2 separate regions of the Homo sapiens genome follow, and region 1 is linked to region 2. The links come from fine-mapping of genetic effects on gene expression. A gene starts in region 2. The other region holds a variant in brackets. All regions are shown on one strand. Distances are between the middles of the regions.

Evidence for each region.
Region 1: its variant is fine-mapped to the expression of SLC27A1 in monocytes after LPS (Fairfax 2014, PIP 0.94).

What each region holds. Positions count from the first base shown.
Region 1 is chr19:17,510,782-17,516,145 of GRCh38, forward strand. PGLS (6-phosphogluconolactonase) reads left to right here and starts at 868. Exons shown (of 5, transcript NM_012088.3): 1 at 868-1,179. The coding sequence starts at 892. PGLS-DT (PGLS divergent transcript) reads right to left here and starts at 1,108. Exons shown (of 3, transcript NR_147835.1): 1 at 562-1,108. RefSeq lists enhancers at 1-371, 372-1,028, 596-845, 1,339-1,633, 1,596-1,855 and 1 more and silencers at 906-1,035, 1,046-1,095, 1,339-1,633. The variant T/TAA (reference allele first, on the strand shown) is at 2,731.
Region 2 is chr19:17,468,138-17,473,501 of GRCh38, forward strand. It overlaps SLC27A1 (solute carrier family 27 member 1), which reads left to right and starts at 2,387. Exons shown (of 12, transcript NM_198580.3): 1 at 2,387-2,570. The coding sequence starts at 2,404. RefSeq lists enhancers at 1,452-1,581, 3,003-3,504 and a silencer at 2,332-2,461.

The DNA of each region.
Region 1 (5,364 bases), 43 kb after region 2:
ATTGGAGGCCTTTCTGGGCACTCAGAGGGACACACCACCACACTAGGAGGGTTAGCTTAAAAAATTCAACAAGCATGGCCAGGCGCAGTGGCTTTCGCCTGAATGCTACCACTTTGGGAGGCCGAGGCAGGAAGATCGCTTGAGCCCAGGGGTTCAAGATCAGCCTAGACCATATAGCAAGAGCCCGTCCGTCCGGAAAATGTAAAAAAAAAAAAAAAAAAAATTCAACAAGCATATTTTCATCCCCTACTTTTTTTTGAGATGGAGCCTCGCTCTGTCGCCCAAGCTGGGGTGCAGTGGCACGATCTCGGCTCACTGCAACCTCCGCCACCCCGGTTCAAGCGATTCTCCTGCCTCAGCCTCCCGAGTAGCTGGGACTACAGGCGCCCGCCACTACGCCCGGTTAATTTTTTGTGTTTTCAGTAGAGACGGGGTTTCACCGTGTTAGCCAGGATGGTCTCGATCTCCTGACCTCGTGATCCGCCCGCCTCGGCCTCCCAAAGTGTTGGGATTACAGGCGTCAGCCACCGCGCCCGGCGGTGCAGGAATTTTAAAACTCACCAAAATACGCCCTCCTTCAGAAAATCCCTGCCACCTCGATAGGACGTCCTCTTCTTGAGCTCCCCTCTCCGGCCCTCCCTGATACAGCAAGGTTGAGCATTCGGGCACTGGCTTCCCGAACTCACTTCGACTCAGGCACAGCAGGCAAAGATTCAATGGGTAGGGCCGGACCGACTGCCCGACCTTCGCGGTGCTTCACTTGCCTCACTGCGCATGTGCCAAAGACAATCACCCAAAGTACTCGAAACCAAGCGGCAGGGCCGGCCCTTGCGCAGGCGTACTAGCGACGGCCGTAGGGAGCGCTTCCTCCTCCCCGCCGCCGCCCTCGCCATGGCCGCGCCGGCCCCGGGCCTCATCTCGGTGTTCTCGAGTTCCCAGGAGCTGGGTGCGGCGCTAGCGCAGCTGGTGGCCCAGCGCGCAGCATGCTGCCTGGCAGGGGCCCGCGCCCGTTTCGCGCTCGGCCTGTCGGGCGGGAGCCTCGTCTCGATGCTAGCCCGCGAGCTACCCGCCGCCGTCGCCCCTGCCGGGCCAGCTAGCTTAGCGCGCTGGACGCTGGGCTTCTGCGACGAGCGCCTCGTGCCCTTCGATCACGCCGAGAGCACGTACGGCCTCTACCGGGTGAGAGCTACGGGGGCCGCCGGGGATCACGCCGAGAGGGCCACAGCCACCGCCTACACCCCGGCTACGGAGGCCGCCGGGGGCCATGCCGAAAGGGCCGCGCCCACTGTCTGCACCTCGGCTACGGGGGCCACTGGGTATCATGCCAAGAGGGCCGTGCCCACTGCCTGCACCTCGGCTACGTGGGTCGCTGGGGGTCATGCCAAGAGGGCCGCGCCCACCGGTTGCCCTCGGCTACGGGGGCCACTGGGGGTCATGCCGAGATGGTCACGCCCACTGCCTGCACCTCGACTACGGGGGCCGCTGGGGGTCTAGCCGACAGGGCTCGCCCGCCTCCTGAACCCCGCCTACAGTGGGTCCCGCAGGACCTCACTGCGCCCTCTGCCTTTATCTAGGCAGGGCTAGAAATGGTCTACTTGCAGTCCGTCTTCCTGCTTCATCCGGTGGCCAGGCAGAGGGAACGGCACGGGCAAGGGCCTGGAAGGGAATCCGAGTGGCCCATGTCAAACGATGCCCATAACTCAGCCCCGTAGCGGACGGGGGCACGAGGAATCAGGTGTAGAGCCTGAATCTCAGGGTCCTGATCTCTAACCCCAGCGAGTTCTCGGGGATCCCTGGGCAGCTTTGCCGCTCTGATGGCTCTGCTTCCAGGCTGTTCATCTTTGGCTTTGAGCCTCAGGATTCTATAGAATCAGAGGAGCGCGCTCTTTTAAAGACAGGGTAACTGAGGCTTGGAGGAGCCTTGGCCTGGCCGAGGGAAGAGTGGGAGGGGCGGGCTCAAAGGCCAGGAACCTCAAGTCACTTGAGTCTGGCAGCGTCAAGGGACACCCCATGCTGGGTGTGCCGTCTTCTCTTTGCATAGAATCTTGAGCTGATGATGGTTTTGTGGGTTTTTTATTAAGAGAAAAGGCTTACTGAACGCTTTATATGCATCAATTCATGAGTCCGTACCACAGCCTATGAGATGTTACACTCATTTCACAGATGGAGAAACTGAGGCCAGAAGAGGTGAGCTTACCTGCCCAAGGCATCTAGTGACCAGAGGGGCAGCCAGGGTGTGATCCTGCCTCATCTGACTTCGTAGTTGGGTACACATTTAACTTCCGCCTTCCTGTGTGTGTTTTCCAAGAGCATCATTAAAAAGTTTTGGCCGGGTGCGGTGGCTCACGCGTGTAATCCCAGCACTTTGGGAGGCCGACGTGAGTAGATCACCTGAGGTCAGGATTTCGAGACCAGCCTGGCCAACATGGCAAAACTCTGTCTCTACTAAAAAAAAATACAAAAATTGGCTGGGTGCGGTGGCTCACGCTTGTAATCCCAGCACTTTGGGAGGCTGAGGCGGGCGGATCACGAGGTCAGGAGTTTGAGACCAACCTGACCAACATGGTGAAACCTGTCTCTACTAAAAATGCAAAAATTAGCCAGGTGTGGTGGTGCGCACCTGTAATCCCAGCTACTCGGGAGGCTGAGGCAGGAGTGAGGCATGATCAGTGAACCGAGATCATGCCATTACACTCCACCCTGGGCGACAGAGTGAGACTGTCTTAAAGA[T/TAA]AAAAAAAAAAAAAAGCAGGTTTTTGGCCGGGCGTGGTGGCTCATACCTGTAATCTCAGCACTTTGGGAGGCCAAGGATGGTGGATCACCTGAGGTCAGGTGTTGGAGACCAGCCTAGCCAACATGGCAAGACCCCATCTCTACTAAAAATACAAAAATTAGCTGGGTGTGGTGGCGTGTGCCTGTAATCCCGGCTACAGGGGAGGCTGAAGCACGAGAATCGCTTGAATGTGGGAGGCAGAGGTTGCAGTGAGCTGAGATCATGCCACTGCACTCCAGCCTGGGCGACAGTTGAGACTCTGTCTCAAAATAAATAATTGTGAAATGCTGCAGAGTGCTAGGGAATAGGGAGTGAGCATTCGTCAAGGGCTATGGGGTGGGAGGTCCTGAGAAGGTGCCATTTGAGCTGAGAGCTGGAGCATGTGCAGGAGCTGGCCATGGTCAAGCTGTGGCAAGAGGGCTCAGCTAAGGCCAAAGCCGTGTGATGGGAGCAAACCTGAAGCCAGGACTTGCTCCTTCTGCCGGTTCTCTGTGAGGGGAATCATATCGGTTCCCTAGGGCTACATAACGAATGACCACAAACTGAGCGGCTTAAAGCCACAGGAATTTATTCTCTCACCGTTCTGGAGGCCAGAAGTCTGAAATCAAGGTGTTGGTGGGGTCACGCCCCATCTGAAAGCTCTTTGGGAGGATCCTTCATTTTCTCCTCATCTTCTGGGGGCTCTGGGCGTTCCTTGGCTTGGGGTCACACCATTCCAATTCCTGTCTCTGTCTGCACATGGCCTTCTTGGATTCTGTGTGTCTTCTCATCTTATATAAGGACGCCAGTCATTGGATTTAGGGCCCACACTAATCCACTATGACTTGTTCTTAACTAATTACATCTGCAAAGACCCTATTTCCTTCCTTCCTTCCCTCCTTCCCTCCCTTCCTTCCCTTCCTTCCTTCCTCCCTTCCTATACTTTCTTTTCTTTTCCTTTCCTTTTCTTTCTTTTTTTGAGATAGGATCTTGTTGTGTTGCCCAGGCTGGAGTGCAGAGGCATGATCGTGGCTTACTGCAGCCTTCAGCTCCCGGGCTCTATCAATCCCCCTGCCTCAGCCTCCTCAGTAGCTGGGACTACAGGTGTGCACCACCAGGCCCAGCTAATTTTTTTTTTTGAGTTGGAGTTTCACCCTTGTTGCCCAGGCTGGAGTGCAATGGCGCGATCTCAGCTCACCACAACCTCCGCCTCCTGGGTTCAAGTGATTCTCCTGCCTCAGCCTCCCAAGTAGCTGGGATTACAGGCATTCACCACCACGCCCAGCTAATTTTATATTTTTAGTAGAGGTGGGATTTCTCCATGTTGGTCAGGCTGGTCTCGAACTCCTGACCTCAGGTGATCCGCCTGCCTTGGCCTCCCAAAGTGCTGGGATTACAGGCATGAGCCACCGTGCCAGGCCGCTAATTTTTTATTTTTGGTAAATACGAAGTTTCACTATGCTGCCCAGGCTGGTCTCAAACTCCTGGGCTCAACCGATTGTCCCACCTCAGCCTCCCAAAGTGCTGGGATTACAGCCGTGAGCCACCATGCCTGGCCATTTTCTGTTGTTTATAAGCCTCGAGTTTATGGTGTTTTGTGATAGCAGGCTGCATAGATTAACACAGGGACCTTGGACAAAGCAGAGTGGTCTTTCCAACTATGGATACGATTGTGTCCCTCCCCAGCTCACACACCCTCCTTGGCTCCCCAATGCCCTCAGTGTGGAGCTCATACTCCTCAGGTCAGCATTCAGGGCAGTCAGCCCCTGCGTTTACTTCGTGGCTCACCTTAGCATTGCCTCAGCTCACTGAGCTAGACTCTGCACAAACACGAGGCACCGAGACATGGACGCCATCTCAGAGCAGACCAGGGCCCCTGGGGCGCCTCTCAGTGGGATAGGGCTGCAGCTTTCTCCTTGATCCAAGTGCTTTTGAGTTAAATCTGCTGCCAACGACTCCACCATTCACAGGCCAGGGCATCTACTGTGCGCTAGCCACAGGTGCTGGGCCTGGGCAAGCCTGGCCCCCACTCCCTGTAGTGGGGCAGGTGCAGGCGGGGGTGGCTGCTCGGAGGAGGTGGCCTGAGGGATGTATATGAGTTTCCCAGGCAGCCTTAGGAGGGAGGGTGGGGATGGAGAAGGTTACCCTTCTCCATGGAGGGTGGTGAGGGGCTGAGTTTTATCCCAAGGGCCGTGGGACCCTGGAGGCTTTGAAACAGGACAATGGGCTGGCTAGACAGGTGCAGGCTATGGCCAGGAAACCCCCCAAATACAACGGAATTGAAAGACTCCTGTTGGAATGCTGGCCCCCGCAGGAACCACCATGATCCCGATTCACCCAGGAGGGCCACCCTCCCGTCCAGCCCCCCAAGAGCAGCAGGGCTCCCTCTTGCCCTTGAACCTCCTCTGCCCTGACAGGCGGCGTCACCCAGGGCTCAGGATCCTGGCTTCCAGCATTCCAGAGGTGACTCACCAACCAAAGTGTCACTCACCAACCGAAGGACCTTGCACAAATGCACCAGCCTCCCCATGCCTCAGTCTCCCCATCTGTAAATGAGTGTTATGACGGTACTGTCATAAACTCCCTGGAGGATCCAGGTGGTCACGTTACTGTTG
Region 2 (5,364 bases):
TTTCTTTCTTCCTTCTTTCTTTGTTTCTTTCTTTTCTTTCTTTCTTTCTCTCTTCTATTTTTTTTTTTTTAAGACAGGGTCTTGCTTTGTCACCCAGGCTGGAGTATAGTGACGCGATCTCGGCTCACTGGATCCTCTGCCTTCCGGGTTCAAGTGATTCTGCTCCCTCAGCCTCCGGAGTAGCTGGGATTACAGGTGTGCTCCACCATGCCTGACTAATTTTTGTATTTTTAGTAGAGACGGGGTTTCGTCATGTTGGTCAGGCTGGTTTCGAACTTCTGGCCTCAAGTGATCCACCCAACTCGGCCTCCCAAAATGCTGGGATTACAGGCGTGAGTCACCACGCCCAGCCTGCCCTCAGTTTCTTTACCTGTCAAATGGGGTGATCACAGCGGTGCTACCTGGCTAGGTAAGAGTGCAACTGCAGTTACTGGTCATTGCTGACTCTTCCAGGCCCAGAAAGCAGCAGGCCAGTGGCTGGCTCTGGGCCTGTCCTCCGGATCTTCCTCGTGATCCCTCATTCCAGCCACCCTGCTGCCCGCAGGGACCAATGGCAGCGTAGGGGGTGAGTGCCTGCCCAGCCCTGTCCTCCAAATGCATTGGAATCAGGCCCGGGCCGCCTCCTAAGGAGAACGCTGGAAAGGTCGGCCAAGGAGAGCAGAAAACAAGCAGTGGTGGAGTCGGCAGTGGGGCAGAGGAGGGGGAGCTGGAAGGGAAGGACCCCAAAGCAGAAGCCCGCACAGTAGGCACAGCGCACCCAAGAAGGGTCCAGGAGTCTGCAGAAACAGAAAGGTCCCCGGCCTCAGCCTCCTAGTCCCTGCCTGCCTCCTGCCTGAGCTTCTGGGAGACTGAAGGCACGGCTTGCAGCTTCAGGTCAGCCAGAGAATGGGGTTGTGCGTGCCCCCAGGCCAGCGCTGGCAGCGCCTGGGGGAGCATCTAGGACCCCGGGGTGCAAGTAAAGGGCCTGTAGGTGCTTCTAGGAAGGATGGGGACCTGGCGTGTGGATTTTGTCCTCCCTGGGATCCTGGGGTGTGACGGTGAGACTTAACCGACAAGGCTTCGGGACATGGATTAAGAATTAGCTGTGTCCTTGAATCACACGTGTTAAGACCGCGGCGGTGTTTACAGTTAGAGACTTCTGAGGCCCCAATGGTGTGAGTTGAGCACTCCCCCGGGCCCTGGAACGTGTTTTTAAGACCGAAAGAGGCTTTGGGGCTTGGATTTAGGACAAGCTGGAGCAAGAATACAGCCCGCGCGGGCCGTGGGTGTGGACTGGGATATTTTTGGTCCCCCGGGGTAGAGATCCTGCACGCCAACTAGGGCTCGGGTCCTGATATCTTGCGAGCCACGCCCCAAGGCTGCAGGACACGTGTGTTTCCTAAAAGGAGAGGGGGTGGGGCAAGGCTTGGTTGTCATGGAGACAGCGGACGACCCTGGCGGGCCGTTCTAGCACCCATGTCTCTTTGGCCGTCGCCTCTCCGGTCCGGTTGCCTCTCTATGGTCGTGGCTTCTGGAAGACGGCCGGCCTCGGCTCTGCGGGCTGAGGGGCTTCGAAGTAGACAGGAGGGAAGAGGGGCGGGGCCTAGGTCCTAGGGGGGCCGGAGTGAAACCCAGGAGGTGGCGACCGAGCCAAAGCCTGAGGGCGGGGCCCGTGGCCAGGATAGAACCTGAGCCTGGGAACTTGGGCTAGGCCCGGAACTGGGGTGGGGCTTGAACGGATTGGGGAGGGCTCTAGTTTCGGGAGGGTGGGGCGTGTGCTTATTGCGGGGGGGTGGGGAGGCATATGTCTAACCTAGGGGGTGGGGCCTGGCTGAGAGGGGCGGGACTCGGGGAGAGGGCTTGTACCTGTGGGCTGGGCTAGAAGCATAACCTAAGGGCGGGGCCCAGTGAGTGGTGAAAAGGCCACGGGGTAGAGGCAGGACCAGGAGGAAAGGGGACAGGACGTGAAGGGTAATTCGGGGATCGAGGATAGAGGCTAGATGAAGGCATGTGGCGAGGCCTGACAGTGACCGACAAGGTGGACATGCTGGCTCTGGGGGCGGGGACTGTTGTAAGATTGGCAGGGAAGGATGGGCTCAAAAATATGGAATAGAGCGGACCCAGGGTCCGGGGGCGGAGCCTGGCCAGGACCTGGCCAATCCCAGGCCTGGGGCCCTGGTCTGGTTCCTAGTTAGCGGGCGGGTGTAAAAGCCTGGAAAGGGGCGATGCCTGGCCTGAGGAGTTGACCAATCCCAGGCCTGGGGGCGGAGTCTGACTCGGAGCGCGTTCCCGGACTCGCGGGGGGCGCAGAGCCGAGGCCTGGGGGCGCGGCTCGCTGTAGAGGCGGGGGCGGTCGTGGGGCGGAGCGGGTCGTGGGGCGGGGCTGGAGCGGCCCGCGGCCTCAGCTCTCTCTGCTTCCCCAGGATGCGGGCTCCGGGTGCGGGCGCGGCCTCGGTGGTCTCGCTGGCGCTGTTGTGGCTGCTGGGGCTGCCGTGGACCTGGAGCGCGGCAGCGGCGCTCGGCGTGTACGTGGGCAGCGGCGGCTGGCGCTTCCTGCGCATCGTCTGCAAGACCGCGAGGCGAGACCTCTTGTGAGTGTTGCCGGGATCCGTCCAGGGCTGGGGGCGGGGCTGAGGGCTCTGGGGGCGCACGGTGCAGGGCTGGGTTGCGGGGACGGCTTGGAGGGTCCGGAGAGCTGAGGGTGCTTTGTAGGTTGGGGGCGGGGCTGGGCCGAGGGCTGGGCGGGGGCGGGGCCTGAGAGGGTGACCAGTTGGGGGTCTCTGAGGGGGCTACAGGGGACACTTTAAGGATTTCTCGAGGAAGATGAGTAGCCTCTAAGGTGCTTCGGGCGTTGCAGGCTGCTTAGGAGATGATCTCAGGGGATTTGGGGGGCAATTTGGGGGTCTTTGGGCAACTGGTGGAAATTCCAGGGAGCTGGGGCTGACTGGAAATCCGTGGCGGTGTGGGGGTCTTTTTGGAGCCGTGATAACTGTGAGAGACTTCAGGGGGCTCTCCAGTAGGTCACCGGGGCTCACAGGGACGACCCAATAGATAGTCTCTGGGGGGTTGCCAAGACACTTTGGGTCTATCTAGGGCTTTCTCTGAGGGATGAGCGAGCTGCTCTATAAAGGACTTCCCGGGTTTCTGAAGGTGTGAGTTTCCTCGGGATCGTTTACAGCTGGGGCACTGTTTGAGATTTTGGGGTCTGTGTGGGACTTTGGGTTTGGGAGTTGTTCGGAGTGTGTCGGGAGGCTGCTGTGTATTCCAGGACTTGTTTGGGGGGTCTCTTCTGGAGACTGGGACACTGGATTCATGCTAGGGGGGCAGATTCTGGTGTCCTGTGCAAGGATCCTTGGAGGGTTTTTGCGGTGTCTCTGAGGGACTTGCTCAAACGAGCCGTTGGGGGTCCTTCTGGGATGAAACAGGCATTGCTGGGGGCTTCTATCAGAGCAGACCTCAGGAACAGCACCACGTGGGAGCAGGTGAGCGCCGGCTAGCGGGGCAGGGCTCAACACCTTCACAGCTCCTTGTAAGATGGAGTAGCAAGAGGGACTGAACCCATTGTAAGGAGGGCACAGAGGGTGTGGAGATGGGAAAGATCCCACCGTAAGTTGACTGGTTCTGAACTTTCTAAAACTCACCCCTTCTGCATGCCATGGCCCCCTGCCCCCGGCTCCTTGGTTGTTCTGATGTGGAAATCTGACTGTGCCCTCTGCTCAGACACCTTCCATGGCCAGCCCATCCTTGGCAGAAGGAAGACTCAGCCCCTAGCTGGGCACTCAAGGTCCTACCATCTGTTCCCTGCCCACCTGCCACTCCCCCCATCCATATGTTCACCTGGTCTTCAGAAAGACTTGCAGTGTCAAGCTCAAGCTGCCCAGAACATACTGGACCCCTTTTAGCCAGGGCAGGCTCTCCCTCTGGGAACCTTTGCTGAATTTTCCTGCTCAGCACCCTCCCATAGCTCCTTGTTGCCCTTAGAATTGACGCCATACTGGCCGGGAGCGGTGGCTCACGCCTGTAATCCCAGCACTTTGGGAGGCCGAGGCAGGCAGATCACGAGGTCAGGAGATCAAAACCATCCTGGCTAACACGGTGAAACCCCGTTTCTAATAAAAATACAAAAAAATTAGCCAGGCGTGGTGGTGGACGCCTGTAGTCCCAGCTACTCGGGAGGCTGAGGCAGGAGAATGGTGTGAACCCCGGAGGCGGAGCTTGCAGTGAGCGGAGATCATGCCACTGCAGTCCAGCTTGGGCGACAGAGTGAGACTCCGTCTCAAAAAAAAAAAAAAAAATAGAATTAGAATTGAGGCCATACTCCTGAGCATTGCGCACGAGGTCCCTGACCATGTCCCAGCCTCCGCTTACTTCCCTTTTGTCGCCTAGCTGCACTTACCTTTTGTCTATTGCTCATTTGTTTGTTTGTTTGAGGCAGAGTCTCACTCCGTCGCCCAGGCTGGAGTGCAGTGGTGCGATCTTGGCTCACTGCAACCTCTGCCTCCCAGGTTCAAGTGATTCTCCTGCGTCAGCCTCCCAAGTAGCTGGGACTACAGGCACGTGCCACCATGCCCAGCTAATTTTTGTAATTTTAGTAGAGATGGGGTTTCACCGTATTAACCAGGCTGGTCTCAAACTCCTGACATCACGTAGTCCGCCTGCCTTGGCCTCCTAAAGTGCTGGGATTACAGGCATGAGCCACCATGCCTGGCTCCCTTTTTTTTGAGACAGGGTGTCTTCTCTGTTGCCCAGGGTGGACCAGCCTCCATCTCCTGGGCTCAAGCAATCCTCCCACCTCAGCCTCCTGACTAGCTGGGACTACAAACGCCTGCCTCCGCTCCTGGATAGTTAATAGAATGTTTTTTATAGAGATGAGGTCTCGCTATATTGCCCAGTCTGGTCTGGAACTCCTGGCTTTAAGCGATCCTCCTACCTCAGCCTCCCAAGTGGCTGGGATGACAGGTGCACACCACCACACCTGGCTAATTTTTTTATTTTTTGTAGAGACGTGGTTCTGCCACGTTGCCCAGGCTAGTCTCGAACTCCTGGCCTCCAGCGATCACCCAATTTCAGCCTCCCAAAGTGCTGGGATTACCGCGCCCAGCGTGAACTGCTTTGAACCATATTGTCTACTTGACTTTCAGACAGCCAGATGGTGCAGTTGGAGTTGCAAACTCATGTGAGGTTATGAGTCATCGATCGAGATTTCACCCCTTCCTCCTAACAGCAAGGTCTGAGATACCAAATTTCCTTTTAGCTCCTGGTGTGTGTATGTTAAGGAAAGATCTTATTTTGATTTCCAATTCACCTTTATGTTGAATGGGCATGCTTTGAGGTCTTATCAGACTCAAACCTGCTTGTCTGACACCTAAGCTGTCCCCCTCCTGG